4 separate regions of the Homo sapiens genome follow, and all the other regions are reported to be linked to region 2. Evidence: microRNA targets listed by miRTarBase, many of them from high-throughput screens and not tested one by one. Region 2 holds a microRNA gene; each other region holds the end of a gene's coding sequence.

The links. The annotated mature microRNA hsa-miR-6845-3p reads CCUCUCCUCCCUGUGCCCCAG and lies in region 2 at 4,726-4,746, shown strand. An mRNA with a match to its seed (bases 2 to 7 or 8) in the 3' UTR can be bound and repressed. Matches are read on the target gene's strand: a 7mer-m8 pairs with bases 2 to 8, a 7mer-A1 pairs with bases 2 to 7 and ends in A, and an 8mer does both.
Region 1: the mRNA of GJB1 is a reported target of hsa-miR-6845-3p. Seed matches in the 3' UTR shown: 7mer-A1 at 1,727-1,733.
Region 3: miRTarBase lists GALP as a target of hsa-miR-6845-3p. Seed matches in the 3' UTR shown: 7mer-m8 at 1,119-1,125 and 7mer-A1 at 1,143-1,149.
Region 4: miRTarBase lists MFRP as a target of hsa-miR-6845-3p. Seed matches in the 3' UTR shown: 7mer-A1 at 4,960-4,966 and 7mer-m8 at 4,563-4,569.

What each region holds. Positions count from the first base shown.
Region 1 is chrX:71,223,355-71,230,461 of GRCh38, forward strand. GJB1 (gap junction protein beta 1) reads left to right here. Exons shown (of 2, transcript NM_000166.6): 2 at 338-2,162. The coding sequence starts at 354. The coding sequence ends at 1,205. Among named protein-coding and RNA genes, the nearest start is that of GJB1, 3.7 kb to the left of the region's middle.
Region 2 is chr8:143,835,390-143,842,501 of GRCh38, reverse strand. It overlaps MIR6845 (microRNA 6845), which reads left to right and starts at 4,686; the gene lies at 4,686-4,746. It overlaps NRBP2 (nuclear receptor binding protein 2), which reads left to right and starts at 1,529. Exons shown (of 18, transcript NM_178564.4): 1 at 1,529-1,796; 2 at 2,273-2,395; 3 at 2,472-2,573; 4 at 2,677-2,766; 5 at 2,953-2,993; 6 at 3,094-3,188; 7 at 3,307-3,330; 8 at 3,402-3,485; 9 at 3,564-3,619; 10 at 3,727-3,822; 11 at 4,747-4,879; 12 at 4,993-5,095; 13 at 5,203-5,253; 14 at 5,328-5,463; 4 more. The coding sequence starts at 1,668. The coding sequence ends at 6,840. RefSeq lists enhancers at 182-911, 912-1,642, 4,954-5,681 and a silencer at 1,068-1,627.
Region 3 is chr19:56,184,606-56,191,717 of GRCh38, forward strand. GALP (galanin like peptide) reads left to right here. Exons shown (of 6, transcript NM_033106.4): 6 at 610-1,170. The coding sequence ends at 665. ZSCAN5B (zinc finger and SCAN domain containing 5B) reads right to left here. Exons shown (of 5, transcript NM_001080456.5): 4 at 6,232-6,382; 5 at 5,081-5,970. The coding sequence ends at 5,222. Among named protein-coding and RNA genes, the nearest start is that of ZSCAN5B, 9.6 kb to the right of the region's middle. RefSeq lists a cis regulatory region at 2,296-2,894.
Region 4 is chr11:119,335,246-119,342,357 of GRCh38, forward strand. It overlaps MFRP (membrane frizzled-related protein), which reads right to left. Exons shown (of 15, transcript NM_031433.4): 12 at 6,612-6,739; 13 at 5,450-6,527; 14 at 4,939-5,195; 15 at 3,697-4,603. The coding sequence ends at 6,303. It overlaps RNF26 (ring finger protein 26), which reads left to right. Exons shown (of 1, transcript NM_032015.5): 1 at 1-2,064. The coding sequence ends at 1,179. It overlaps C1QTNF5 (C1q and TNF related 5), which reads right to left and starts at 5,638. Exons shown (of 3, transcript NM_001278431.2): 1 at 5,450-5,638; 2 at 4,939-5,195; 3 at 3,697-4,603. The coding sequence starts at 5,152. The coding sequence ends at 4,086. RefSeq lists a silencer at 4,757-4,856.

The DNA.
Region 1 (7,107 bases), not on the chromosome of region 2:
TTTGCCCCAGGTCTGGAGTTAAGGAGCTAGGGGACAGGGAGCCATAGGGGATGGCTGATATCGGAACAAGATGGGCTTGGCAAAGAAAGGGGCTGGCGGGAAAAGAATGTTGGATGAAAGCGAAGAAGGGGGATGGGGCTCAGGGAGGTCAAGTCAAGTGAGTGAGGAGGAGGAGAAGCTGGCAAGGGAGATGGGGTGACGAGGAAAGACATGACCATCCTTCCTTTCCTGCTACTGGCTCTTGGAAGAGTTGAGGGGGGGTGCGCAGGCAGTGCTATGGCGCCCGACTTTCCACCCCAGCTTTCTGACAGCTTGCTTCATGGCTGGTGTTTTGCAGGTGTGAATGAGGCAGGATGAACTGGACAGGTTTGTACACCTTGCTCAGTGGCGTGAACCGGCATTCTACTGCCATTGGCCGAGTATGGCTCTCGGTCATCTTCATCTTCAGAATCATGGTGCTGGTGGTGGCTGCAGAGAGTGTGTGGGGTGATGAGAAATCTTCCTTCATCTGCAACACACTCCAGCCTGGCTGCAACAGCGTTTGCTATGACCAATTCTTCCCCATCTCCCATGTGCGGCTGTGGTCCCTGCAGCTCATCCTAGTTTCCACCCCAGCTCTCCTCGTGGCCATGCACGTGGCTCACCAGCAACACATAGAGAAGAAAATGCTACGGCTTGAGGGCCATGGGGACCCCCTACACCTGGAGGAGGTGAAGAGGCACAAGGTCCACATCTCAGGGACACTGTGGTGGACCTATGTCATCAGCGTGGTGTTCCGGCTGTTGTTTGAGGCCGTCTTCATGTATGTCTTTTATCTGCTCTACCCTGGCTATGCCATGGTGCGGCTGGTCAAGTGCGACGTCTACCCCTGCCCCAACACAGTGGACTGCTTCGTGTCCCGCCCCACCGAGAAAACCGTCTTCACCGTCTTCATGCTAGCTGCCTCTGGCATCTGCATCATCCTCAATGTGGCCGAGGTGGTGTACCTCATCATCCGGGCCTGTGCCCGCCGAGCCCAGCGCCGCTCCAATCCACCTTCCCGCAAGGGCTCGGGCTTCGGCCACCGCCTCTCACCTGAATACAAGCAGAATGAGATCAACAAGCTGCTGAGTGAGCAGGATGGCTCCCTGAAAGACATACTGCGCCGCAGCCCTGGCACCGGGGCTGGGCTGGCTGAAAAGAGCGACCGCTGCTCGGCCTGCTGATGCCACATACCAGGCAACCTCCCATCCCACCCCCGACCCTGCCCTGGGCGAGCCCCTCCTTCTCCCCTGCCGGTGCACAGGCCTCTGCCTGCTGGGGATTACTCGATCAAAACCTTCCTTCCCTGGCTACTTCCCTTCCTCCCGGGGCCTTCCTTTTGAGGAGCTGGAGGGGTGGGGAGCTAGAGGCCACCTATGCCAGTGCTCAAGGTTACTGGGAGTGTGGGCTGCCCTTGTTGCCTGCACCCTTCCCTCTTCCCTCTCCCTCTCTCTGGGACCACTGGGTACAAGAGATGGGATGCTCCGACAGCGTCTCCAATTATGAAACTAATCTTAACCCTGTGCTGTCAGATACCCTGTTTCTGGAGTCACATCAGTGAGGAGGGATGTGGGTAAGAGGAGCAGAGGGCAGGGGTGCTGTGGACATGTGGGTGGAGAAGGGAGGGTGGCCAGCACTAGTAAAGGAGGAATAGTGCTTGCTGGCCACAAGGAAAAGGAGGAGGTGTCTGGGGTGAGGGAGTTAGGGAGAGAGAAGCAGGCAGATAAGTTGGAGCAGGGGTTGGTCAAGGCCACCTCTGCCTCTAGTCCCCAAGGCCTCTCTCTGCCTGAAATGTTACACATTAAACAGGATTTTACAGTAAATGAAGAGGTGGCTTGTGTGTTTGTCAAGTTCTTTCTCCTGCAACCTCTGACCTCCCCCAGGATGAGCTGGCCTTGGTTTTTTACTGATTAAGAAAGGAACAGGGCAAAAGAAGTAGTTACTTGAGTAGCTGAAGCTGCAAATGAGGAAATCACTGTACTTCTGGGCCGCAGAGCCAGCCCCGGAGCCATTCCTCCCTGTTGCTTTTGTTGTTGTGGTTCTTGTCTTTTTCATTGTCTAATAACAGCTTTATTGGGATTTAGTTTACATACCTCCTTCCTCTGATTTTGAAAAGATTAAAAATGACAACTCCCTCTGAAGAGACAAGAAATGATTGGGAAATTTCTCCTGCCCCAGAGAGTGGCACAATTCCCTGGGTACCTCGGTGAGAGCCCCTCCCCCGCACATCTGGAGACCTATCTCCTTACTCCCTCCAAACTCAGCATCCCCTACAAGCTGATGTCCCACAGTCCACCTGTTGGGTTGCACGATGACCCTGACCCCTTTCAGCTGGACAGAGCCCCTAATTTCATCCTCTTTCCCAGTTTCCTTCTCTCAGGAATCAATGCTTCCCACTCCAGAGATGCCTCCACACAGGTCAAACATTTCATAGCAGCAGTTTCCTCACCAGCATCACCCTCCCCTGTCAGCTGTGGTAGGAAATGCCCCAGGCTGAGACTTGGAAAAGCTGCGCTGGAGTCCTGATGCTGTCACTTAGTAGCGGGGCATTCCCTTCCCCGAACCTCAGCTTCCTTATGAGCAAACGAGAACTGGCCCAGCACATCTCTCAGCTCCCTTCAACACTCTGTGCTTCTGGGATTCCTGAAAGATTTCCCCAAGTAACAGTGCATTATCTTCCCCCAGCCTCACAGGGGTTTCCTTAGAGTCACTGCCCCCACAAATAGCCTCTCAGAGTAAAAGTTTCCCCCATGGCAAGTTTGCCTCCTCAGCTTCCTTACCTCCGAACAGGAGAAATTATTTGCCACTCCCTCTCAGAGTATGTGGACTCCATGTAGGAAGTGCTGGATATCAGAAAGGGAGAGAAAATCAGACACAATCTCATGTGAATTGTTCTCCCTTGAGACAGTTTTTCCTCTTTGGAGAGAAAGCATGGAAGTTTTCTTTATTTGAGATTTCTCCTTTAGAAAAAAAAAAAAGGAAGACTGGATGTGGTGGCTCATGCCTGTAGTCCCAGCACTTTGGAAGGCCAAGGGGAGAGAATCACTTGAGCCCATGAGTTTGAGACCAGTCTGAGCAACATAGAGAGACCCCATCTCTACAAAAAAAATAAAATAAAACAATTAGTCAGGTGTGGTGGCATGTGCCTGTAGTCCCAAGCTATTTCGGATGCTGAGGTGGGAGGATAACTCGAGCCCAGGAGGAGGTTGAGGCTGCAGTCAGCTGTGATCACGCCACTGCACTCCAGCCCGGGCCAGAGAGTGAGACCTTGTCAAGAAAGAAACAAAGAAAGAAAAGGAAGGAAGGAAGGAAGGGAGGGAGGGAGAGAGGGAGGGAGGGAGGGAAGGAAATGAGACCTTTAGAGGCCGAAGCAAGAGGATTGCATGAGGCCAGGAGTTCAAGACTAGCCTGGACAGCATAGCAAGATCCTATCTCTATTTTTTTTTTTTTTGAGACGGAGTCTCGCTCTGTCACCCAGGCTGGAGTACAGTGGCGCGATCTCGGCTCACTGCAAGCTCCACCTCCCGGGTTCACGCTGTTCTCCTGCCTCAGCCTCCCGAGTAGCTGGGACAATAGGCGCCCGCCACCACGCCCGGCTAATTTTTTTTTGTATTTTTAGTAGAGACGGGGTTTCACTGTGTTAGCCAGGATGGTCTCAATCTCCTGACCTCGTGATCTGCCCGCCTCGGCCTCCCAAAGAGCTGGGATTACAGGTGTGAGCAACCGCGCCCGGCCTCCCATCTCTATTTTTAAAAAATTGAAAGAAAGAAAGGAGAGAGTAAGTATTCCTTTCCACCACACTTAGTAATCCCTGAGAGAGAGCTTCCTCTCCCTTAAAAGAGGAACATTCCTTTCCTACAAGAAATTTCCTTTCCCCTTAGAAACTGACATTATGTTCCATCAGAGGAGAGGTCCCCACCCCCTCACGGTGAGAGAGATTCCTTTTCTTATCGAAATCCATCCTTTTCACCCACAACAATACAACAAACACATCCCCTCTCCATACAACATGCCATCAGGAGAAAGATTTTCTTTTTAAAATTCCATCCTGGTCCTGGTCGGAAGCAGGGAACCTCATGCCCTCTCCACATTGAGAAATGCTAACCCCCACCATCACATCAGAAATGTAGTTTCTCTTCAAAGATTCTACCAATCCCCCTTGGAAAGAGGCTCCAACTCTATATCAAGGCTTTCCTCTCCAGGGGGCAGTGGTGGGACAATAAAGCTATCAGGCTGGGTGTTACAGCCCAAGTGGGGGACACAGGATTCTTGGGTCCCATGAACCAGGTAGGAACAGGCCCAAGGAACCTTGAGGGGAGCTGGTGGACACAATGTCTCAGGGAGGTAGGAGGCAGAGTTAGACTGACTCCAAGACTGACTTTTCAAATCAGGCTCTGTCACAAGAGTATAAGAGAGAGACACAGAGGCAAATGAGGCATGCTCTCTGCCACGCAGTAGAAATTCAATGTGCTGAGTGACCTGGGTTATGAAGAGGACACTGGAATTAGGAGACCTCGTTCTCCACTGATGAGCTCTGTCCCCTTGGACACGTGATATTTACCCTCTCCAGGTCTGTTTCCTCATCTCCAATAGAGAGTTAATAATAACCTCTCTACCTCTTTCACAGAACTTTTTTGAGAATCAGACAAGATGTGTTCAAAAGCTGGTTATGAACTAACGGTAAAGTAAGGTAAGATAGTATCATAAGCACTGAGACCATGGCCTTACGACATGCTAGAATTCTCAATGAGCCAGAAAGGAGTGAGGCTGGTTCAGGTAGGCTGAAGCTAGTTAAAACAATTTGGCAATAATAGTGTTGGCTCCCCCAGGGAGTGGACACCAGTCCAAACAGCAAAGTCCAAGAGAGGTTGCAAACCTGAGCATGATTCATTTAAGGGTCAATATTCAAGGGGTCTGATCAGGGGGCAGAAAAGGCATAGTAACAGGAAGCTCTTGCATGCTGTATCTCATGGAACTGGTCCTTTTAGGAATGTCTATGATCTTTTAGAGGTGTCTATGCACAGAGATGCCAGGAGCTGGGGGGCAAAGGAACAGAGGCAGATGAACTAGGAGAGTAATCAAGGCCTCCAGCCAGCTGAGTTGGGGTTTGAAAGCAAGCTGTGGTATCCATAGAGAATTGGCATGGCAACCACAAACTGGTTCAGATGTTCAATCAGATAGCCTGGGTGCACACAGTGGGGGCTAGAGGGGAATGCTTGCTCCATTTACTGATTCCAAAGTACTTAAATGCCAGACCTGGCCTATGGTGCAGAAGGGGCTACACAATCGTACCAAGCTAAGCTCCTGTTGATTCCTGGAGTAGGCCAGGGAGAATGTACAGGGTCAAATGGAAAATGGATTGGGACATTCCAGCAAGGGGCAAATAAAACAGACAAAAAATACCCTACAGATATGACAGGAATTGGCTGGGCACAGTGGCTGTTGCCTGTAATCCCAGCAATTTGGGAAGCCAAAGCAGGCAGATCACTTGAAGCCAGGAGTTCGAGACCATCCTGGCCAACATGGTGAAACACTGTCTCTACTAAAAATACAAAAATTAGCCAGGCGTGGTGGCACATGCCCATAGTCCCAGCTACTCAGGAGGCTGAGGTGGGAGAATTGCTTGAATCCGGGAGGTGGAGGTTGCAGTGAGCCGAGATCGCGCCACTGCACTCCAGCCTGAGTGACAGAGTGAGTGAGACTCCATCACAAAAAAAAAAAAAAAAAAAAAAAAAAGCCAGGCACGGTGGCTCACGCCTGTAATCCCAGCACTTTGGGAGGCCGAGGCAGGTGGATCACTTGAGGTCAGGAGTTTGAGACCAGCCTGGCCAACATGGTGAAACCCCGTCTCTACCAAAAATACAAAAATTAGCCCCGTGTGGTGGCGCACGCCTGTAATCTCAGCTACTTGGGAGGCTGAGGCATAAGAATCGCTTGAACCTGGGAGGCAGAGGTTGCAATGAGCCGAGATCATGCCACTGCACTCCAGCCTGGGTGACAGAGCGACTCTGTCTCAAAAAAAAAAAAAAGGTATGACGGGGGTGATACCTTCAAACTTGTGTGTTTGGAAGGTCAGCCAGCAGCTGCATGGAGACTGGATTGGGGATTGAAGACTGAGACAGATTGACCAGGTACTGCCAGGTGCAGTGGCACACCTGTGGTCCCACCTACTTGGGAGGCTGAGGTGGAAGGATTCCTTGAACCCAAGACTTTGAGACCAGTCTGGTCAACATAGTGAGACCCTGTCTCTAAAAAAAAAGACCAGTTATGGAGCTGTTGCAATAGCCCAAGTGGCGCCTGTAGGACTAGGACAGTGGCAGAGGAATATGAAGAGGAGACAGGTGTGAGAGACATTTTGGATGTAGAACCTACAACAGGACTTCATGTCTGAGTTGTGGGGTGTGGAAGAGCCAAAGGTAATTTGAGGTTTCCTTTCCCTCCTTTGACTGGAAAGCTCCTAATCATTCAAAACTCATCTCAAACGTCGTTTCCTCTGTGAAGCCATCAACTCTTCTTTCCCCGCTGATCAAGTCCCTTGGAGAGACTCTCCAATTCAGACCTCCACTCTGAATTCCCACAATATGACTGTGGTGTATGTGATAAGAGCGCTTATCACATTATATGGTGCCAGGTGCGGTGACTCACACTTGTAATCCTAGCTGCTCAAGAAGATGAGGTGGGAGGATTGCTTGGAGACCAGCCTGGACTACACAGTGAGACCCCATCTCTAAAAAATACCACCACCACCACCACCACCACACACACACAAAAAAGAAAAGCACACAGGCCAGGCACAGTGGCTCACGCCTGTAATCCCAGCACTTTGGGAGGCTGAAGCAGGCGGATCTGTTGAGGCCAGGAGTTCAAGACCAGCCTGGTCAATATGGCAAAACCCTGTCTCTATTAAAAATACAAAAATCAGGCAGGCGTGGTGGTGGGCGCCTGTAGTCCCACCTACTCAGGAGGCTGAGGCAGGAGAATCAGTTGAACCTGGGAGGCAGAGGCTGCAGTAAGCCGAGATCGTGCCACTGTACTCCAGCCTGGGTGACAGAGTGAGACTCTGAAAAAAAGGAAGGAAGGAAGGAA
Region 2 (7,112 bases):
AATACACTTAACACTAACAACAGCTGATGAGCTTTAAAAAAAATCTCAATAAGAAAGTTTATGAATTTGTGTTGGGCCATATTCAAAGCTGTCCTTGGCCGAATGCACCCTCTGGGCTGCGGGTTGGACAAGCTTAGCATAGAATCTGGTGTGGCCGAGGTAAACACAGACATTCAAATCAGGCAGAACATTCCAAGGGCTTAGAGGGTGTCTCCCAGGAGCTGGTCAGGGCCAGTTTCAGGGTGGAGGATTTGAACACCCCAAACCTTTACTGCAGAGGGCCTCAGCAGGATCACCTGGCATTGGTGGAAACCACACACAAGGTGCCTGGTGACCAAGGCTGGTCAGAAAAGAGAGACCACAGGGGACGCAGCAGGGCCAGATGCACCTCTGCCAAAGAAAGAAAGAGGCGTCCCAAAGGGCCAGTGCATGGAGCTGCGCGGAGGGGAGGAGCGGAGTTCCAATTTGGGCTCCAGAGAGAGAAGGTAAAGGATGAGGACCCGCCGTGAAGGAGGGAGGAGACCACAGGAAGGCCGTGGGGGCTGTGGGCTGAAGGGGGTTTTAGGTGAGAATCGGGGACAGCCCCGGTGGTCGGCGTGGCTGGAGGGTGTGCTTAGAGCGGCCTCCGGAGGGAGAGGTCGTGTGAGCCGGGTGGGCTCCCCCCTCATGGTTCCACTGTCCCATGGGAGCCAGCCGCGGAAAGGAAATGCGCGTTTGAGGAGAAAAGAGAAAATCGCCATCCTGGAAAGTGAGAAGATGGGCTTGTGGGCGGGAGGAGGCACTGGTGGGCGGGCCAGGGAGAGATTCGTGGTCACCGATCAAAGTCAGCCTGGGTCAGCCTGCTGGTGGGCCTTTCCCCCGCCCTCGGTGCCCCTTCGACCTGTCCCTTGGGGGTCGGCCGGGGAATGAGTGCGTGGCCAGGAGAGCGGGTCCCGCTTTCGAGCCCGCGGGGTCTTCTGCAGCTGGAGGGTGCCGTGGGCTTGGGGGCCCCCAGATGCCCCGGGTCTTCCCCCAGATCCTAGGGGAGCAACCGCGAGAGAAGTGGGCGCTCCGGGCTCCAGGTGTCCGCAGGGCGGGGCCTCCGAGGGGGCGGGGATTTGGGGGCGGTTCCTCTGCGCGGGGCGGGGCCTCATAGGGGCGGGGCTTCGAGGAGGTGAGGCGGGGCCTGGGGTGGGGCTTCGCGGAGGACCCTGGGAACGGGCGGGGGCGGGGACTAAAACGGGGCGGGGATTCGCGGGGGTGGGGCGGGTCCTGGGGCGGGGCTTCGCGAAGGAGGCTTGGAGGACGAGGAGGGGACAGGGCCTGGGGAGGGGCTTCGCGGAGCAGGCCTGGGAGACGAGGAGGAAACAGGGACTGGGGCGGGGCTTCGCGGGGCGGGGCCTCCGGGGGGGCGGGGCCTGGGCGCGGCCCGGGCTCGGCAGCTCTCGGGGAAGCTCTGCTCTGGCTCCGGCAGGCACAGGCGGCTCGGGAGGTGCGCGCCGGCTCCGCCCCCGGGCCCCGCCCGTCCGCCGCGCGCCCGCGCCTCCCAATTCCCAGAGCCGGGGCTGGGGCTCTAGGCTGCCGCGGCGGCTCTAGGCTGGGCTGCTGGGCGCGAGGCCAGGGCGGGCCGGGAGAGGCTGCGCCGGCGGCGGATCGCGCAGAGGGCGGTGGCCTGGGCTGGCCGAACCATGGCGGCCCCGGAGCCGGCGCCGAGGCGGGCCCGGGAACGGGAGCGGGAGCGGGAGGACGAGAGCGAGGACGAGAGCGACATCCTGGAGGAAAGCCCGTGTGGTCGCTGGCAAAAGCGACGGGAGCAGGTGGGCGCGGGGGTTGGGGCACGGGGTGACACCGCCCTCCCAGAGCGGGAGGGGCCTGGAGGCTGCGCGGGGCGTGGGGGCGCTGGGAGAGCGCGGCGGCTGGAAACCTCTCCGCGGCCCCTCGCGGCCCGCGAATCAGCCACCCCTGGACCCCTTTGGCCTGGCGCTCGCCCTGGGACTCCCTGAGGGCCAGTCTCCTCCCAGGACCACCTCCCCATGCCTCTGGACTCAGCCGCTAGCTTCCTGGGGATCCCCCTCGACCCCCTGAAACCTGCTCCAAATCCCCTTAGCCCAGCCCTTGGATAGGAGCCCTTGGCTCCTGGGGGCAGCTACCCTCCAAGCCCCACCTTCCCGCAGAGTGGCTCAGGGCCTGCAGCCCACGCTTGGGCCCACTGGAAAGGTGTGGACAGGGACCAAATCCTCACCCACAACCCTGACACACACCAGGGCACACATAACCCTTTATTCACCCCCAGGTAAACCAAGGGAACATGCCAGGGCTTCAGAGCACCTTCCTAGCCATGGACACGGAGGAGGGGGTAGAGGTGGTGTGGAACGAGCTCCACTTCGGAGACAGGAAGGCCTTCGCGGCGCACGAGGTGAGACCGCTGCCCCCTCCTCATCCTGCTTGGGTGACCACCTGCTGACCACCCAGCGACCACCCTCCCTCCCCAGGAGAAGATCCAGACCGTGTTCGAGCAGCTGGTGCTGGTGGACCACCCGAACATCGTGAAGTTGCACAAGTACTGGCTGGATACCTCTGAGGCCTGCGCGAGGGTGAGCACGGGCAAGGCCCCGGGCAGGCAGAGACCACAGCTAGGTGGGGCGGGCATGGGGACGAACCCGCAGCTGGTGGAAATCCTGAGCTCGCACCGTGCAGGTCATCTTCATCACAGAGTACGTGTCATCAGGCAGCCTCAAGCAATTCCTCAAAAAGACCAAGAAGAACCACAAGGCCATGAACGCCCGGGTATGGGGAGCGGGCTGGGGCAGCCACGGGGACAGGACGGGGTTGGGGCAGCCTCGGGGACTGGGATGGTGAGGGGGTGCCCGGCGGCCTCGGACAGGGGCTGGGCGAGGATGCGGGGCGGGCTCCGCAGGCCCAGCCGCCTCTCCTGCGCCCACCCGACCGACGGAGTCGTGCGTCCGCCGCCAGGCCTGGAAGCGCTGGTGCACGCAGATCCTGTCTGCGCTCAGGTGAGGGCCTGGGCTGGCCTGGGCGCGGCGCCACCGAGCCCCCATCTCTCCAGAGCCTCCTGACCGGCTCCTCCTACTCTCCCCTCCCCAACGTCTGCAGCTTCCTGCACGCCTGCAGCCCCCCAATCATCCACGGGAACCTGACCAGCGACACCATCTTCATTCAGCACAACGGCCTCATCAAGATCGGCTCCGGTGCTGGCGGGGCAGGGCTGGGTGGGGGAACGGGGCAGGGGAAGGTGCCTGGAGCCAAGGGCAGAGGAGTTCTGATGCCCCAGCAGCTAACTCCACTCTTTCTCCCGCCCCTTGGCAGTGTGGCACCGAATCTTCTCCAATGGTAAGTGCGGACTTTGGGGGGACGGGGTCCTGGAGAGGTCCCCGCCCGCTCAGCTCTGCGCCCTCCCACAGCACTTCCAGATGATCTCCGAAGCCCCATCCGCGCTGAGCGAGAGGAACTTCGGAACCTGCACTTCTTCCCCCCAGAGTATGGAGGTGAGTGGTGCTGGGTCCGGGTGCCCCGTGCCTACCCTGCGCTTCTCTCCTACGTGTCCTGTGCTCTCTTCTGTTCAGAGGTGGCCGATGGGACCGCTGTGGACATCTTCTCCTTTGGGATGTGTGCGCTGGAGGTACTGCCCCCGCCCTCCACCTTGTGCTCTGCCCTCCTCCTAACTGTGCCCTGCCTGGCTCACCTGTGTGGTCCCTTCCCCATGCCTGACCTGGCTCTGTGCCCCAGATGGCTGTACTGGAAATCCAGACCAATGGGGACACCCGGGTCACAGAGGAGGCCATTGCTCGCGCCAGGCACTCGCTGAGTGACCCCAACATGCGGGTAAGCAGCTTGCCCTGCCCCTCCCCAGCTGGCTCACCGTGCTCAGCTAGGGCTAGCAAGGTGCTCCAGGCAGACCTGGGAGAACATCACAGTTTGTGCAGTTGAGGGGTATACCAGCTGACTGCACCCCTCCCAAAGAGGACCTCAGTGGGAGCACATACTGGTTCCAGGCCTGAAGGCCCTAAGGGGTCAGCACATTCTAAGGACAAGAAGGCAAGAGAGACCCTCCCTCTGTGGCTGCCATCACCATGCCCGTTTTATAAAGAAACCAAGGTTCAGAGGAGATGAGTCCTTTGCCCAAGGCTTTAGAGTGAGTGGTGGAGCCAACATCTGCACCTGGGTCTGCTTCACTCCAAGTCCTTGACTTTAAGCTTCCAGGAGGTGATGAGGCTCCAGCTTGTGGGGGGACATGGTGGGTGCCAAGCAGGCAAAAAGAGGTATGGGATGGAAGCTGCATCCACAGCCCCCTCTGCTCGGAGTCTAGACTTAACTCCATGGCCTCAGGAGATGGGGGTGCCTGGTCGGGGCTGGTGGCGAGCTGGAGCCGGGCTGGGCACGGATGTGGACAGAGTGGGGACCCATCAAGGTCGTCTCCAGTGTTGGGCCCGAGCTGAGCCGATCAAAAGGCCATGGGTAGGAGGCTTGCAGGTGTGACTTTAGGATCATGGCTTCTCCCCACGATTTTTTGGGGGTCGAGGGAAGCAGAGCATGGTGCTCCAATCCCAGAACCCAGCTGTCCTCAAGCTCAGAGGACCAGGTCCTGGCCTGGCTGCTGCTGCTGGGACTCCTCCCTATGGGCATCCCTGCATGTCCTGTGTGTCCCTGAGGAGGGACATGGGGAACTCAGGGGCCACCTCTCCTCGAACTGCGGGGCCAGAGCAGAGAGCCCTTGCACACCACCAGCCTCTCCTCCCTGTGCCCCAGGAGTTCATCCTTTGCTGCCTGGCCCGGGACCCTGCCCGCCGGCCCTCTGCCCACAGCCTCCTCTTCCACCGCGTGCTCTTCGAGGTGCACTCGCTGAAGCTCCTGGCAGCCCACTGCTTCATCCAGCACCAGTGTGAGCAGCAGGCCGGCCCGGGGGGTGGCTGGGGAGGTGGAGGTTGGGACGTGGAAGGGGCCCTGCAGGACCCACGGCCTGAGCACACCGCCTTGATGCTCTTGTGGCCGCAGACCTCATGCCTGAGAATGTGGTGGAGGAGAAGACCAAGGCCATGGACCTGCACGCGGTCTTGGCGGAGCTTCCCCGGCCCCGCAGGCCCCCGCTGCAGTGGCGGTGAGCAGTCAGCACCCAGAAGCCTCCCCTCCCCACACCTCCCCTCCCCGCACCTCCCCTCCCCTCGCCCCGGCCAGCCCCTCATGTGCCTCCCACTTCCATGCCAGGTACTCGGAAGTCTCCTTCATGGAGCTGGACAAATTCCTGGAGGATGTCAGGTGAGAACTGATGTAAGGTTGGGGGCCAGGCAGCTGTCAGGCCTGAACCCCCAGCCACCCTGTTGTGTCCCCAGGAATGGAATCTACCCACTGATGAACTTTGCAGCCACTCGACCCCTGGGGCTGCCCCGTGTGCTGGCCCCACCCCCGGAGGAGGTCCAAAAGGCCAAGACCCCGACGCCAGAGCCCTTTGACTCTGAGACCAGAAAGGTGAGTCCCCTCTCCTGCTGCTCAGTGCCATCCCTCAGACCTTCTAACAGCCAGATAAGAGGTGCCCCTCCTTCTCTTAGGGCCTGCATCCCCACAGCCCAGCTCTCCTCCTGGCTGCCAGAGACCAGATCCAGGCTGACCCCCTTGTGGGGGTCATGGGGGTTATAGGACAGGCTGGGCACTCTCCTTTTCCGGGAGGCTCCCTGTCCCCTCAGATCCTTCCCCTGCATCCTGCTGCCTGCCCTGAACCTACTCCAAGCATCCTTCCTCCAGAACTCACCCGGGCTCTTCCACCCTGCCAGCAATCTTCCCCCACCCCCGCACCCCTCCCACCCCCCCCACCCCTCCCATCCCCCACCTGGTGCTGATTCCCGGACATCTATGTCCTGGTGTCTCCCCAGACTTTTCCTGCAGCACCCCCTCCTGGCCAGGGGCCTCTCTCGGTGCAGTGCAGCCAGAATTCATGTCCTAACAGGCAAACTGCCTGCTCCTGGCTGCCAGCAGAGATCATGGGAGTCCTCAGCTGACACCCAGGCTCTGGGAGGCCTGATCCCGCAGGCACCGTGCACTTCGGCGCGGTCCTGTCCCGCCCAACCTCCCTTTCCCCACGCCCACAGTTCCCTCTTTGTTCAAGTTGTTCTCTCCGCGGTGAAAGCTCCTATTCAGCCTTCAGTACCCAGCCCCTAATGTCGACTCTTCTCGAAGCTTTCCTTAGCTTGCCAAGCCACTAGCAGTGAGATGGGCTCCTCTTAGAGATTCCCCCCTTTCCAGTCTTTGCTGTCCCTTCCCGGCCCCTTTGGGGCCGCGGCATGTGGTCTTGCTGCTGGGTTTGTGAGTCCCAGCCTTCCCCCGCTGCAGGTCATCCAGATGCAGTGCAACCTGGAGAGAAGCGAGGACAAGGCGCGCTGGCATGTGAGCGGGGCCTGGGAGGGCGGCGCTGCCGTGGGGAAGGCGGGAGCGTGGCGGAGCCCTGAACCCCCAGCCGACCACGCCCCGCCGCCTCCCCAGCTCACTCTGCTTCTGGTGCTGGAAGACCGGCTGCACCGGCAGCTGACCTACGACCTGCTCCCAAGTAGGCTGGGCAGGGGACTTGGGCGGCGGGCGGTGACCCCAGGCGGCGGGTGGGCAGCGGCCTCATGCCTCGCCTTACGCCATTGCCTCAGCGGACAGCGCCCAGGACCTCGCCTCGGAGCTCGTGCACTATGGCTTCCTCCACGAGGTGCGCTGGGCGGTGCGGCGCGGCCTGGCGGAGGGGGCGCACGGGGCAGGCCGCGCCCCTCCGTCCCCCATGCCTCCCTCCTTCCGCAGGACGACCGGATGAAGCTGGCCGCCTTCCTGGAGAGCACCTTCCTCAAGTACCGTGGGACCCAGGCCTGACCCGGAGCCCCAGCCCCAGGGGACCATGCCGGGGTGCTGCCTGGGCAGGCCATGTTGGGGAGACTCCAGCACCGTGGGGCTGCCCTCCTCCATGCGCCTGGGAGCACAAAGGCCCCGGTAGTGAAGGAACCCCCCGTCTCCTGAGAGTGGGGCTGACCCTGCCTTGGGCGCCGAGGGGTTGGGGGGTGGGTGTGGGGGAGCCGTTAGGCCTCCCAGGTCCTTAGGATCAGGGTTGCCCCCAGAACCCCTTCCCATATCCTCCATTCTCCGCC
Region 3 (7,112 bases), not on the chromosome of region 2:
CCTGAGTAGCTGGGACTACAGGTGCCCACCACCACGCCTGGCTAATTTTTTGTATTTTTAGTAGAGACGGGGTTTCACCATGTTAGCCAGGATGGTCTCGATCTCCTGACCTCGTGATCTGCCTGCCTCGGCCTCCCCAAGTGCTGGGATTACAGGCATGAGCCACTGCGCCCAGCTCCTTCTTCAATCCTAACTCAATTCCTGGAGACGCCATGTCCTTATTTCAACAGCACTAATTCATTTCAAAAGCATGTACTGGACAATACTGGGTATGATACGCTCCCTGAATTCACTAATTTCCATCCTCACCTCGATTACATTCTGACTCTTGAAAACACCCACCATCACCATGTGCCTTCTTAAAATGTGGGCGGAAAGGGAGAATATGTGGGCAGATGAAAGTAGAGAGAAGGGGCCAGGCACGGTGGCTCACGCCTGTAATCCCAGCACTTTGGGAGGCTGAGGTGGGCAGATCACCTGAGGTCAGGAGTTCAAGACCAGCCTGGCCAACATGGTGAAACCCAATCTCTACTAAACATACAAAAATTAGCTGGGTGGGGAGTGATAGTGAGAAAAACCATTCAAAGTTTACCTCTTTCTTTCCCACAGATCTGGGCATGCTCAGCATGAAAATTCCCAAGGAGGAAGATGTCCTGAAGTCATAGATGTCTTCAAATCCCTGTTCCTATCCTTCTTCTCCAGCTCCTCCTGCTCCCTCTGAAACCTTTTCTAGGTACCCTATGCTGAGACTAAGATCCTGAAGTTAAATACCCAGGTCTCATGAAGACATTGTAAAGCATTTGAATTATTCTAAAAAATTTCTGGAGTTTCTTAGGTTTTATTGATTCATCCTTGAAATCAGTATAATGTGCTATTAATGGAACCAATAGTAATTCGAGGACTAGTTGGGAGATTCTGGGGTAATCAGGGAATATTCCTGCAACACATTTAAAGGAATTGTGTTCTTTTGGAATCATCCCAATTATAACACGAGCTATTGCATAATACAAATAACCCTCTTAAGTCTGAGAGTCTGTGTCTTTATTTGAAAAGATTCTTCAAATTGCGTACTTACTCCTCCATATTCTTTCAACCCACATGAGTCTCCTCGAGAAGTGAGGAGAGGCAGTTTGGAGCAGAATGGAGAGAATAAAATGTTTCTTGTCAAACACTCCATTTTTTCCCTTTTAATTAGTCTGGGAATTTTTTTAGGGGTAGCAGAATCCAGGATGATGGGGTCAGGTGTGGGACTGGGAAATCCAGGATGACAGAATCAGGTGAGGGACTGGGGAAAATATAACCTATTGGAGGCAATCCATTTTGGATTATTGTTTTGCTGAAAGTTTTACTTTCATTTTGGGTTTGAGGAGTCACAGGAAAAAGAAACCACAGTGTTACACTGAGGCAGGGGAATCGCTTGAACCCGGGAGGCAGAGGTTGCAGCGAGCCGAGATTGTGCCATTGCACTCCAGCCTGGGCAACAAAGTGAGACTCAAAGTAATTAATGACCAAAATGAGTGACTGAGACACTGTCAGTCTCCATCCATCGAGGTTTATGAAATCGGCTGTGGGGCACGTCCAGGGAAAGGTGAGCCACAGACACCTCTGTGGCTGTTTTTCTGAAGTTTTCAGGATATTTACTATTTATACATTTCCTTAGACGGGGGCAGGCATAGAGGCAGAGGGGTGGGTAGGTGGTGAGCTGAATGGTTAAATTCCTATCAGTCTTTAGTTAGTGCCCAGTAAATCTACATTTAAAAAAAATATATGTTTCTATTTTTTATTTATTTATTTATTTTAATTTTTTTTTTTTTTTTGAGACGGAGTCTCGCTCTGTCGCCCAGGCTGGAATGCAGTGGCGTGATATCGGCTCACTGCAAGCTCCGCCTCTCGGGTTCACACCATTCTCCTGTCTCAGCCTCCCGAGTAGCTGGGACTACAGGCACCCGACAACATGCCTGGCTAATTTTTTGTATTTTTAGTAGAGACGGGGTCTCACCGTGTTAGCCAGGGTGGCCTCGATCTCCTGACCTCGTGATCTGCCTGCCTCGGCCTCCCAAAGTGCTGGGATTACAGGCATGAGCCACTGTGCCCGGCCTATGTTTTTATTTTTATTTTTTTGGAGACAGAGTCTTACCCTGTCACCCAGGCTGGAGTACAGTGGCGCAATCTCAGCTCACTGCAACCTCTGCCTCCCGGGTTCAAGCAATTCTCTTGCCTCAGCCTCCTGAGTAGCTGGGATTACAGGCGCCTTCCACCATGGCCGGTGAATTTTTGTATTTTTAGTAGAGACAGGGTTTCACCACTTTGGCCAGGCTGGTCTTGAACTTCCGACCTCAAGTGATCCGCCCGCCTTGGGCTCCCAAAGTGCAACGTTTTACATAAGATAAAGTGCATGTTTGAAGGCAAAAAAGGGCGTAAAGGGAGTAAAGGAAGCACCAATTACTTAGACATCTTTGGGTAGGTGGAGGAATGACTGAGCTCATCTTATCTTTGTTCCACGCCTCAGAAGATAAGCTAGTAATGGACATTGTCAGTGTGGAATAAAACAGACCTGAGTTTTAGGAGCTAGACTTACATTGTAGACCTGAAGTTACAAAGGGTGAGTTCTTGTTTATGGGAAGTCAGCAAAGAATTTCCTTATGAATGATTTGCGGGGGCATTCGTGGATGCCCGGGGCCTCTTCCCTTTCCGTGGGGATCTGGCTGATGCCAAATGCCAGCAACTGCTGTCCAATTGGAAGAGGGCGCTGCCTGACTCAGCCACCAGGCTGACCTCTCCTTTTGCATAAGGAGTTTGGGGAATCCTGAGGTTTTTCTTCGCATAATGAATAAGTATTAATATTGTTAATACTTATTCATTAATATTGTAATTAATTATAATTATTACAATAAATTACAATAAATAATTAATAAGTAATTAATATTAATTAATTACTATTCATGGCATGGTGGCTCACGCCTGTAATCCCAGCAGTTTGGGAGGTCGAGGCGGGAGGATCACTTGAGGTCAGGAGTTCGAGACCAGCCTGGCCAACATGGTGAAACCCCATCTCTACTAAAAATACAAAATTTGCTGGGTGTGGTGTCAGGTGCCTGTAATCCCAGCTACTCGGAGGCTTGAGACGTGAAAATTGCTTGAACCCAGGAGGCAGAGGCTACAGTGAGCTGAGATTGTGCCACTGCACCCCATCCAGCCTGGGTGATAGAACGAGACTCAGACTAAAAAAATAATAATAATAAAAATAATAATTATACAGAGTCAAATGTCGGGGATTCAAGGAGGCAGAAAGCAGATGAGTTCTCGCCCTGCTGGAGACTCACGTCCCTGGGAGAAGCAATCACTTAAAGTGATTAAGTTAATACGAGAGGCTGCAGTGAGATTTTTTTTTAGACAGGGTCTCACTCTATTGCCTGGGCTGGAGTGCAGTTGGGAGATCTTGGCTCACTGCAGCCTTGACCTCCTGGGTTCAAGTGATTCTCCCACCTGAGCCTGCTGAGTAGCTGGGACTACAGACATGCACCGCCATACCCAGCTAATTTTTGTGTTTTCAGTAAAGATGGGGTTTTGCCATGTTGCCCAGGCTGGTTTCTAACTCCTGGGCTCAAGTGATCCGCCTGCCTGGGCCTCCCAAAGTCCCGGGATTATAGGTGTGAGCCACCACACCCAGCTTTGCAGTGAGGTTTTGAAGCAGTGTTATGTGATGGGATTCTTTTTTCTTATCAAAAAATAATTTACTGGGCAAGTACGGTGATTCACGCTTGTAATCCCAGCACTTTGGGAGGCCAAGGTGGGCAGATCACTTGAAGTCGGGAGTTCAAGACCAGCCTGGCCAACATGGTGAAACCCCATCTCTATCAAAAAAATTTCTACTACATCTCTACTACAAAAATTGCCAGGCGCGGTGGCTCACACCTGTAATCCCAGCACTTTGGGAGGCCGAGGCATGTGGATCACCTGAGGTCAGGAGTTCGAGACCAGCCTGGCCAACATGGTGAAATCCTATCTCTACTGAAAATACAAAACTCAGCCTGCTACAGTGGCAGGCGCCTGTAATCCCAGCTACTCGAGAGGCTGAGGCAGGAGAATCGCTTGGACCCGGGAGGCAGAGGTTGCTATGAGCCGAGATCTGACACTGCACTCCGGCCTGGGTGACAAAGCTAGACTCTGTCTCAAAAATAAATAAATAAATAAATAAATAAATAAATAAATAAATAAATTATTGCCTTCTAATATTTTTTTAGCAGCCCAAGTCCAATGATTGCATTAAAAAAATTTGTTGCATCTATGCCATGAATACAATATTTAGGCAGTCATGTCAGCTTTTCTTTTATTTTTCTCTTTAGGATAGGGCCTTACTGTCACCCAGTCTGGAGTACAGTGATGCAATCATGGCTCACTGCAGCCTCAACCTCCTGGGCTCAAGCAATCCTCCCACTTCAGCCTCCCCAGTAGCTTGGATTACAGGTGTGCCATCATACCCGGCTAATTTTTATTTTTATTTTTGTAGAGATGGGGGTCTCACTGTTACCCAGGCTGGTCTCGAACTCCTGGCCTTAAGTGATCTTCCTGCCTCAGCCTCCCAATGTGTTGGGATTACAAGCATTAGCCACTAGGCCCAGCCTTACTTCTAATTTTTATTCTTATTTTTAATACATCTCCTTTTGTTTAAGGATATATACCAAGTGCCTAGAATATCAGCTGATAAGTGTTCCATAAATGTCTGTGGAATATTTGTTAGACTTATTATTATTTTTTGTTATTTTTTAAAGTTATTTATTTTATAGAGACAAGGTCTCACTCGCTTGAGCCCAGGTTGGTCTTGAACTTTTTCTTTACTTATTTTTGGGGTGGAGTCTCACTGTGTTGCCCAGGCTGGACTTAAACTCCTGGACTCAAGCAAACCTCCTGCCTCAGCCTCCCCAGTAGCCGGGATTACACATGCGTGCCACTGTGCTTAGTTTTTTTCTTATGAGATATTGGAAAATGATGAGACTTTGCTCATTGGAAGAGAAACAGCAACAGACACTAAAATAAATCTGTAAGAAAGCAACAGACATAATCAAACAGAAAACAAAACTCATGGGGGAGGATAAATATTTATTCAAACATCCGGGCAATTCCTACCAAGTGCTTTATGTGTATATGTCATCTGGTAACATTGGAGAAAAACCATCATTCACTGTCTCTTGGGGTGGAGGATGTGGACCTGACTCTGGAATCACTGGGAGGTGGTTTCCCGGTGTGTTTTCAGGTGACGCTTGAATGTCCCCAGCTGACGGAAGGCCTTTTGACAGGTGGGACATTTGTAGGGCTTCTCTCCGGAGTGGGTGCGCTGGTGAACGTTCAGGTTCCCCTTGTGGCTGAAAACTTTGCTGCAGTATTTACATTTAAACGGCCTCTCCCCGGTGTGGATCCTCTTGTGGCCCTGTAAGGTGGACTCGTGGGCGAACCGCTTTTGGCAGACGTCACACATGTAGGGCCTCTCGCCAGTGTGGACTCGCTGGTGAACTCGGAGGTCTGAGGGCTGCAAGAAGCGCTTCCGACAGAGATCACATTGAAAGGGTCTGTCTCCTGTGTGTGACCTCCTGTGGATGCTTAGCTGGGAAAAATACTTAAATGATTTATTGCACACGTCACATGCAAAGGGCGGCAGGGCCTTGGCTTCTTGGCCATCTGGGTGACTGACCGGGCCCGCAGGGCCTGGGGAATGAACTGGATTGATCTCAGCTTGTCCTGGGGATTCTCTGTTGCCCACAGGTGTGGCTTCTCCTTGAGGCTCTTCTTGGGAAATGGAGGAGGCATCTGGTTTGCTTCTTTTGGGACTGCTCAGATTCAGAGCATCTCCTCTGTTCCCGCTGTGAGTCAAAGCTTCTCTCTCCACAACGCAGGCAGAAGGTGTGTCAGCATCCACATTTTCCACAGAGGCTCTTTTCTGGGGTTCCTTCCCCTCCTTTGCTCTCACCAGATCTGGTGGAAGAAGGGATTCCACACACAACAGTTAACAAAGCCGATTTTCAATACACCAAACTCATTGCAACCAAACACTGACCTTGGCTGAGAACTTCCCCTCAACCTCAAGCCTAAGACATTGGACTGTAGGTCTCTGGAAAGTGGAGGAGAGATTTTGGCAGCTGATCGCCAGCCCCAGGGGATGATAATGCTGGGCCCCCAGCCCCGCACCCCAGAAGAGAGGGACTAACCCCTGTGGATCCAAGTCTTCATACTCACTGGGACTCTTTGGAAGCTGAGGCTCTGGGGATGACAGTCCTGGGTTCTCTTCCCTGTTTTCCTTCAGATCCTTCTCCAAGGTCTGCTTGGGTCTCGGAGAGTTTGGGTCACCTGTTACGTCAATACTCTTGTGTAGCAGAAAGTCCTCTCCCTGAAGAGGAAAAACCAAGAGCAATGACTGCCGTGTCTATACTGGTGGAAGTAGGGACATGTCTGTCCCCTCCTGACTGGACACACCAGACTTCCCATGGACCACCCCATCACCCCAAGTAAACATCACCACCTCATTTCTGCGTCTGTCCCTAATCTGCACCCTCCATATTCTAAATCAGCTCCTTTGCCTGGCGGTTTTCACTGTTTGGTTCTCTGAGAATATTTCTCCCCGCCGTGCCAATGTCTCCCTGCCCCTGACGCTGGAAGAAGCATGACTCTAGGTGGAGGCCCCTAACCCCTGGCACCATTGGCATTGGGGCTGCATCATCCTCCTGGAGGGGGCGCTCCTGTGCAGAGCAGAGACCCCGCCTCCACCCTCTAGATGCTATCAACACCCCACCACCCCTGAGAATGCCAAACAAAAATGTCCTCAGACATTGCCAAATGTGTCCTTAAAGGCAAAATCACCAGTTGAGAAACACTCCTCAAATTAAGAAATCAACAGTCTGAGAAAGTGGGTTCCTTGCTGAATGACTTCATGAAATGTCTTTGCGGAAACTGGATGGGGTAGGGACCTTCAGTTCATTCATCTGTGCCAACTGCCTCCCTCACTTCACTGAGACCATTTCTTACCCACCCCCCCACCCTAAATGCTAAAAGCTCTCATGGTGGAGAGAAAAGTAGATGAGGCTTCCCTCTCTGTGATGGCTCAGGAATGAATGTTTGGG
Region 4 (7,112 bases), not on the chromosome of region 2:
TTCGTCTACAACCTGCCGCACACGGTACTGACTAGTCTTCTGCACTTGGGCCGCGGAGTCTTGCTTTCATTGCTGGCCTTGATCGAAGCCGTGGTCCGGTTCACATGTGGGGGCTTGCAGGCCTTGTGTACTCTGCTGTATAGCTGCTGCTCTGGCCTAGAGAGCCTAAAGCTCCTGGGGCACCTGGCCTCTCATGGGGCACTGCGGAGCAGGGAGATACTGCACCGGGGCGTCCTCAATGTGGTCTCCAGTGGCCATGCTTTGCTGCGCCAGGCCTGTGACATCTGTGCCATTGCCATGAGCCTGGTGGCTTATGTGATCAACAGCCTGGTCAACATCTGCCTCATCGGCACTCAGAACCTCTTTTCCCTGGTGCTGGCCCTGTGGGATGCAGTGACCGGGCCTCTGTGGAGGATGACGGACGTAGTGGCTGCCTTCCTAGCCCACATTTCCAGCAGTGCTGTGGCCATGGCCATCCTCCTTTGGACACCCTGCCAACTAGCCCTGGAGCTGCTGGCCTCAGCTGCCCGCCTCCTGGCCAGCTTTGTGCTTGTCAATCTCACTGGCTTGGTGTTGCTAGCTTGTGTGCTGGCAGTGACGGTGACTGTGTTGCATCCGGACTTCACCCTGAGGCTGGCTACCCAGGCACTCAGCCAGCTCCATGCCCGGCCATCCTACCACCGTCTTCGAGAGGATGTCATGCGGCTCTCTCGCCTAGCACTGGGCTCAGAGGCCTGGCGCCGAGTCTGGAGCCGCAGTCTGCAGCTGGCGAGTTGGCCAAACCGGGGAGGGGCACCTGGAGCTCCCCAGGGTGACCCTATGAGGGTATTCTCAGTTAGGACCCGGAGACAGGACACTCTTCCTGAAGCGGGGCGCAGATCAGAGGCAGAAGAGGAGGAGGCCAGGACCATCAGAGTGACACCTGTCAGGGGCCGAGAGAGGCTCAATGAGGAGGAGCCTCCAGGTGGGCAAGACCCTTGGAAATTGCTGAAGGAGCAAGAGGAGCGGAAGAAGTGTGTCATCTGCCAGGACCAGAGCAAGACAGTGTTGCTCCTGCCCTGCCGGCATCTGTGCCTGTGCCAGGCCTGCACTGAAATCCTGATGCGCCACCCCGTCTACCACCGCAATTGCCCGCTCTGCCGCCGGGGCATCCTGCAGACCCTCAATGTCTACCTCTGAAGCCTCCTTCCCTGCCTGCCCACCCCTCCATGCTCCACGCAGGCACTCACGCTAGGACAGCATTAACACCTCATCTCCGGGTCCTGGTCTGAATCCCCTCCTACCCCTGTGGCCATCCTGCCATACATCCAGGACATTGAGTTGGAAGACTATGATCTGGGTGGGGGCAGGATAACATGGCTTCTCTTTACCCAGTGGGTCCCTTCGATGCTGAGGGTGGTGAGTATGTCACTATGCAAGGGCCCTGAGACTATTTGCTGTGGGCTCTCCTCCAGCCTGCCCAGGGCCCACCCAGATGCCTCTGGGGTTACCCCTGTCTGCTTCTGGTTTTTCTGTTGGAGATCTATAGGTCCTTTTCCTGCCTCCTTCACATTTCCTCCCCAGCTTTTGCGGCCACAACACATCAGTGTCATTTGGGTGTTTTGGCAACTCAGGGGCCTTCGGATGATCTTAAACCTTTGTGTTCAGCCAGAGCCCCTGTGCCCTGGTAGGCGTTGGGGTTAGTATCTCTCGGGTGCCCTCAGAGCCACCTCTGCCTGTGATCGTCTGATGAGGCTCCCTCCCAACCTGATCCAAAAGCCAGTCTCAGGAGTTTACCCCTGGGATGGGGGATGCATCTGCACCTGACTTTGGGGCCACGTGCCCTGTGGCACCCCAGCTCACTGGGAGTCTCAGGAGGGATAACCGGATTTCTGCTCTTTCCCCTGTCACTCCCACATCACACAGAAAAATGGCATTCCTCTCTGTCTCTCCCTGGCATGGAGAGGGCAGACTGTGCACATTTCACTAGGGTCCAAATACAGAAGGGCCCAGGGCCCAGGGGCTTGCAGCTTCGTGAGGGGTCTCTGGCCCAGTTTCCAATGAATAAAGTTCTCTTGACAGCTCTGACAGTCTCTGTGTGCATCCCTGCAAGGGAGCAGTTGGTCAAGGCAACAGACCTTGCATCAGGGTCCTTCAGCCCCGCCAGAGTCAGAAGTGTGGGCTGTGGGGGTACCTGGGCTTTAGAGGGGGGACAGGGAAGGAGCTAAGATAGGCTGGGAAGACTATGTCATGGGGAGAGTGCATGCCAGGCATGGCTCTGTGAGCTCTCATCCCTTCTGATTTGTCCCCTCTCGCAACACATGGCTTTCGAAAAGCCTTCTATTTTTTCTGTTTTTTCCCAAATTAAGCCCTTGTAGAGAGGAATGTGAACCATCTCACCCCTTGAGTCAACCTTCCCAGCTCCTCCTCCGGGCCAGTCTTCCTGGGAGGGAGCATGGGGTTCCTCCTGCCTGGAGTCCAGTCTGCCCTCGGATCCCAGGAGGAGCTGGTGTGTGTCTCTGTGTGTCTTGGCATGGGGGTCTGGTGCAGGGCTGGGCTGGAGTGCGGCTGCGGGATCTCCTGGTGGAGGCTGCCTAAGGCCTGTCTCTGGCTCACATTTGGGGCTGAGTCCCCATTGGCCGTATCTGCCCTCACATGACCAGCAGAAGAGCAGGGGCACTCCCCCATAATTGTATGTTCTGTCTGGGACCACAGTGCCTGGGACTGCCTTCAGGAAGGGGGTGCCGGTAGCTCAGAAAGAAACTCTGAGGAGAGGCCCCCCCCCTTCCTTGGGTTGAGGCTGTGCAGATGGGGCTGGGCAGTCCTGGTTTGTTAGTCATTGGGTTGGGGGTGGGCTCCAGGGGTGGGCGGAGCCTTGAGGGGCTTTGTGGCTAGCCTCAGACACAGTGGCTCGGCCCACCCAGGCTATGCCCAGCACAGTGGGGGAGGGCTCCTCATCTCCACCTCAGAACTGGGAGGGCTTGGCACTTGCTCTTTCCTTCCCTCAATCCGGGACAGGGAGCTGAGCAAGGGGAGGCCTGGCTCCTTCCAGTCTCTGTTTAATGTGGAGATAAACATTTTATGATAGAAGATAAACTTCCTGAGTTGGGAGTAAAGGACCCCCCCTTTTCTTCCATCCGCATCTGGAATTCCTTTGGCCGACCTCAATACCCCTCCTCTCCCTCACCCCCCCATAGTCAGGAGCTCAAGCTACCCAGGATCCCTGCGGCATTCTGGGGCCAGGGCACCCCCTTGTGGTCATCTCAGAAACTGCTTATCTTTAGACGCCCGAGGACGCCACTCACTCGGGTTACAGAGCAATAGCTTTCTGCTCATCGGGGGCAGGCAAGCAGCCGGAGCAGCCATGGACGAAAGTCCTCGGCTCTTTTTTGTTGGATGAGGGCAGAGGTATGTGTGGCGCAGGCAGCCCCTACGTGGTTCAGTTGGCATCTTTGAATTAGAAAAAGGTGCTCCCTTTCTCAAGGATGGATGGAGCCCCACACCAGGAGGGCATCCCGCTGTCAGACACTCCCATTCACAACCTAGGTGGCGGCTCTGTGGAGCAGCCTCTCATTCCCCTGGGCCGGCTTCTTGTATATCTGCCGCATATCTCTATTTCATCCAAGAACCCTCCCTTCTGCCTGAACACCCCCTCCACACCATGATCCCAGAAACAGGGAGCCCCCACCACTAAAGAAGAAAGGCTGGAGCCGGTAGGAGGGTTCTTAGGTTTATTGAGTGATCTCTGAGAAAAGGGCCGGCCCCAGGAGCAGGAGGGGGTGGGGAGGATCCAGAGAAGCAGAGGACCAGGAAGAGAGCACCCCACCGTGGGCTCCTGGACCAGAGCAACTGGGGGACTTACACTTGCCAGCACAGCACACTCCTCTGGTCTTGGGCAGAAATCCAGCCACTGCCCCATGCTGCCAGACCTGATCGCAGACAGCCACTGTTCCCATTCCTTGCCAGCAGCAGGACGGAGAGTGCTCTACCCCACCTCCCTAGTCATTCACAATATTCCAGGGGGGCCAGCCCTCCTGGATGACCTGGTTGTCAGCCTCACACCCTCCTTCTAGGAGTGAGAGCATGAGCTCACTTTGCAGTGGGCACTAAGCAAAGACTGGGGAGCTGTGCCAGTCGGAGTACACCAGAAATCCGGAGAAGGTGCTGTCTGTCTTGATGCTGGCATAGATGCCAATGTAGTCACCCACACCCACCTGCACCCACACTTGGTCCTCAGGCTCCAGCCTCACCATGGCCCCCCCCGAGAGCGAGGCTGGCTTGGGCCACCCCCCGAAAAACTGGAAGAAAGAGGCAATGGATTCGCCATTCTTCACCAGATCAAACTGCAGGCTGGCCCGGTAGACGGTGGCATGGACGGCGAAGTAGTAGACCCCAGGCACCTGGCAGGTGAACTTGCCGGTGACGGCGTCGTAATGTCCCTGCTCGTTCACCAGCACGCGGTCGAAGGGCAAGGGTGCGTCAGACGGCGGAGGCACCCGGCTCTCGGAGCGCTTGGCGCTGAAGGCGGATCGCGGAGGCACCGAGCACTCCCCGGCAGGCCCGGTGGGCCCCGCGGGTCCCGCCTCTCCTCGCGGCCCGGGGTCCCCTCGAGGTCCCGGCAGTCCTGCGGGGTAAGCGGGGCGGCAGGGTGAGAGTAGCGGCGGCTCAGCCCGCAGCGGGGCGGCGACTCTAAGGTCACCGTACCCCTCCCCGCCCCTGCCTGAGCTTCGGCCAGCGCCTCCTCCCGCACGGGTACCTCCTCCACCCCTTCCCGCAGGGCAGATCTGGGGGGCTGGCCAAGGGGGCTCCCGCCGCCTGGGCCCCTCCCCCGCTCAGGGCTGCAAAGCGCGGGGAGTGGCGCCCCCTGGCGGGAGACCCGAGTCCCGGACACCGGGAGCTGGAGCTGCGGCCGCGCCTGCTCGGACATCGCCACCGATAGCCGCGGCGGTGCCTTCTTACCCGGCCTCCCGCCCTCGCCTTTCTCTCCCGGAGCCCCGGGCGCGCCGTCGCGGCCGTCGCGGCCATCGCGGCCCGGCAAGCCCTGGCTGCCATGGTGGCCCGGCGTGCCTGGAAGGCCGGGGTGCCCCGGGCAGAGGCTGGGGATCTTGTTGTCGTCCAGTGGGGGCGAGCCGGCCGCCAGGCCCAGGAGCAGCAGGACGAGGAGTGGCCTCATAGCGCTGGCACCGGGAGCCCGGACGCCGGGGTCCTCTCGCAGTCTGTGGACCAGGCAGGACTGGAGTCGGGACCCAGAATCCTGGGACCTGCCTCTCTCCCCACCCCGGCGCGGCCCAGTCGGTCCCCACCCCACTGCCGTGCCCCTGAGGCTGAGCGCTCGCAGGGCCGAGCATCCGGAGAGCACAGGCAGGCGCGAGAGGGTGGGAGCGGCCAGCCCTCCCTCCCACCGCCGGCCCGCGCCAGCCTTTCCCACAGTCCCCTCCCCAGCCCCTTTCCCCTCCTCCGCCAGACTCACCCCCCCTCCCGGCTCCCCGATGGCCTCCTTCGGGGCGCTCGCTACTCCGGACCCTCCAGTTGGTGGTGCTCCAGCCCCCGCGCTTCTCCCCGGCCAGGCGCCCCCTGCCCTGCCGTCACCCCAGTCCTGGTTCGCTCCCTGCCGGCTCCGCTTTCCTCCTCCCAGACTCCAAGAGGAAACCAGTTGTTCAGGGGCCAAGAGCTCCCGGACCGGGAAATAGCTGGGAAATAACTCGTGGTGTCGCCCGGCGGCCGGCCAAAGTTTAGGGGGAGAAAGGAGGGGGAGAGAGACTTGAGCTGGGCACAGAGAGGCAGAACTTCGAGAGACGGACACACAGGGCACCTCCTGTTCCCAGGGCCAGAGGAGAGGCAGGGCAGTGGCAGAGACCAAGGACCAGACCCCATTTCAGGGAGAAATACGCAGAGAGATGAGGGTGGAGAGTTCTAGAGGCAGACAGCCAGTTGGATCCCTAGGGCCTAGGACAGGGGCCTGCCACATGAATAGATGCTCAGTACATTTTTGTTGAATCAAGGAAAAGGTCAGAAGGCAGGCGATGGAGAAGCTGAAAAAGCAGATGGAAAGGGGAAGAGGCCTGGATGGGAAGTGGTCTCGATTGTCCGGTGGCACAGTGTGGGGCCAGTCAGCAGCCTGGGACCGGTAAAGGGACAGGAAGGAGCAGGGAGGGTGGTAGGGTCCCATGAGCCCCAGCTGAGGACTTCTCTTCCCCCTCCCTGGGAGCCCCAGAGAAGGATGGGTAGAGACCCTGCTGATGCTCCTTCCTTTGTTCCCCTGCGTGCCAGCCCTGACCGGCAAAAGAGGACGGGCAGGAAGAGGGCAGGGGCCGGCTTCAGGGTCAGGGCTGGGCACAAGCTTCCAGGTCAGCTGCCTCTGGCAGCCTGTTGCAGTTGAAGGGCCAGGGGGTGCCCAGTAGTGCCAGGCCAGACTGGCACTGGTGCTCCGCTTCCTGGCAGACAGAGCGGCAAGGGGGCAGAACACTGCCTAGTGGGGTGCAACGGGGCACAAGCAGCCCACACAGGAGCCTCCGGAAATGCTGGTAGCAGGGCAGGCTTGTCAGGCTCTGCGGAGGGAGAGTGGCCTTCAGGCACCTGCTCCCAGGCTCCTCCCCTCCCAGGCCCGCCCTCCTTCCCTCCACCCAGAAGACCTTGTAACCGCTGAGGACCTCTACCACCTCCTCCTGGGTGATCATGCCCACCCAGATGTTAGGGAAGGCTGTGGTGTTGTAGCTCAGACCGAGGCACATCTCCACCTGGACAGGCTCACAGGCCAGCTCTGCAGGGGTGGAGGGGAGGGCCACTGTGGGGACTGCTCACTGGCTCTGTGGCCTGTGGCAAGTCACCGAATCGCTCGGTCCTGTGTGTACATGGGTCCAATGGGGGTGGTTGTGAGGAAGCAAGAGGATAACAAAGAGACAGGCTGTACACACTCTGAGGATCCCTGCCATCCCTGAGAGCCTGCTCCAGCATCGCTTGCCAGCCCTGGGCATCATGCAGGCACGTCTTTAATCTCAGGGAACATGGGGCACCCGCGTTTGCAGGGACTGCTTGGGCATCTGGAAGAAACCCCCTGCTCTGTGTAAGAGGATGCCTTCATCTTTGGTGTGGGCTGTGGAAAGGGGCTCTGGGTGACAGAAGGGACTGGTTCT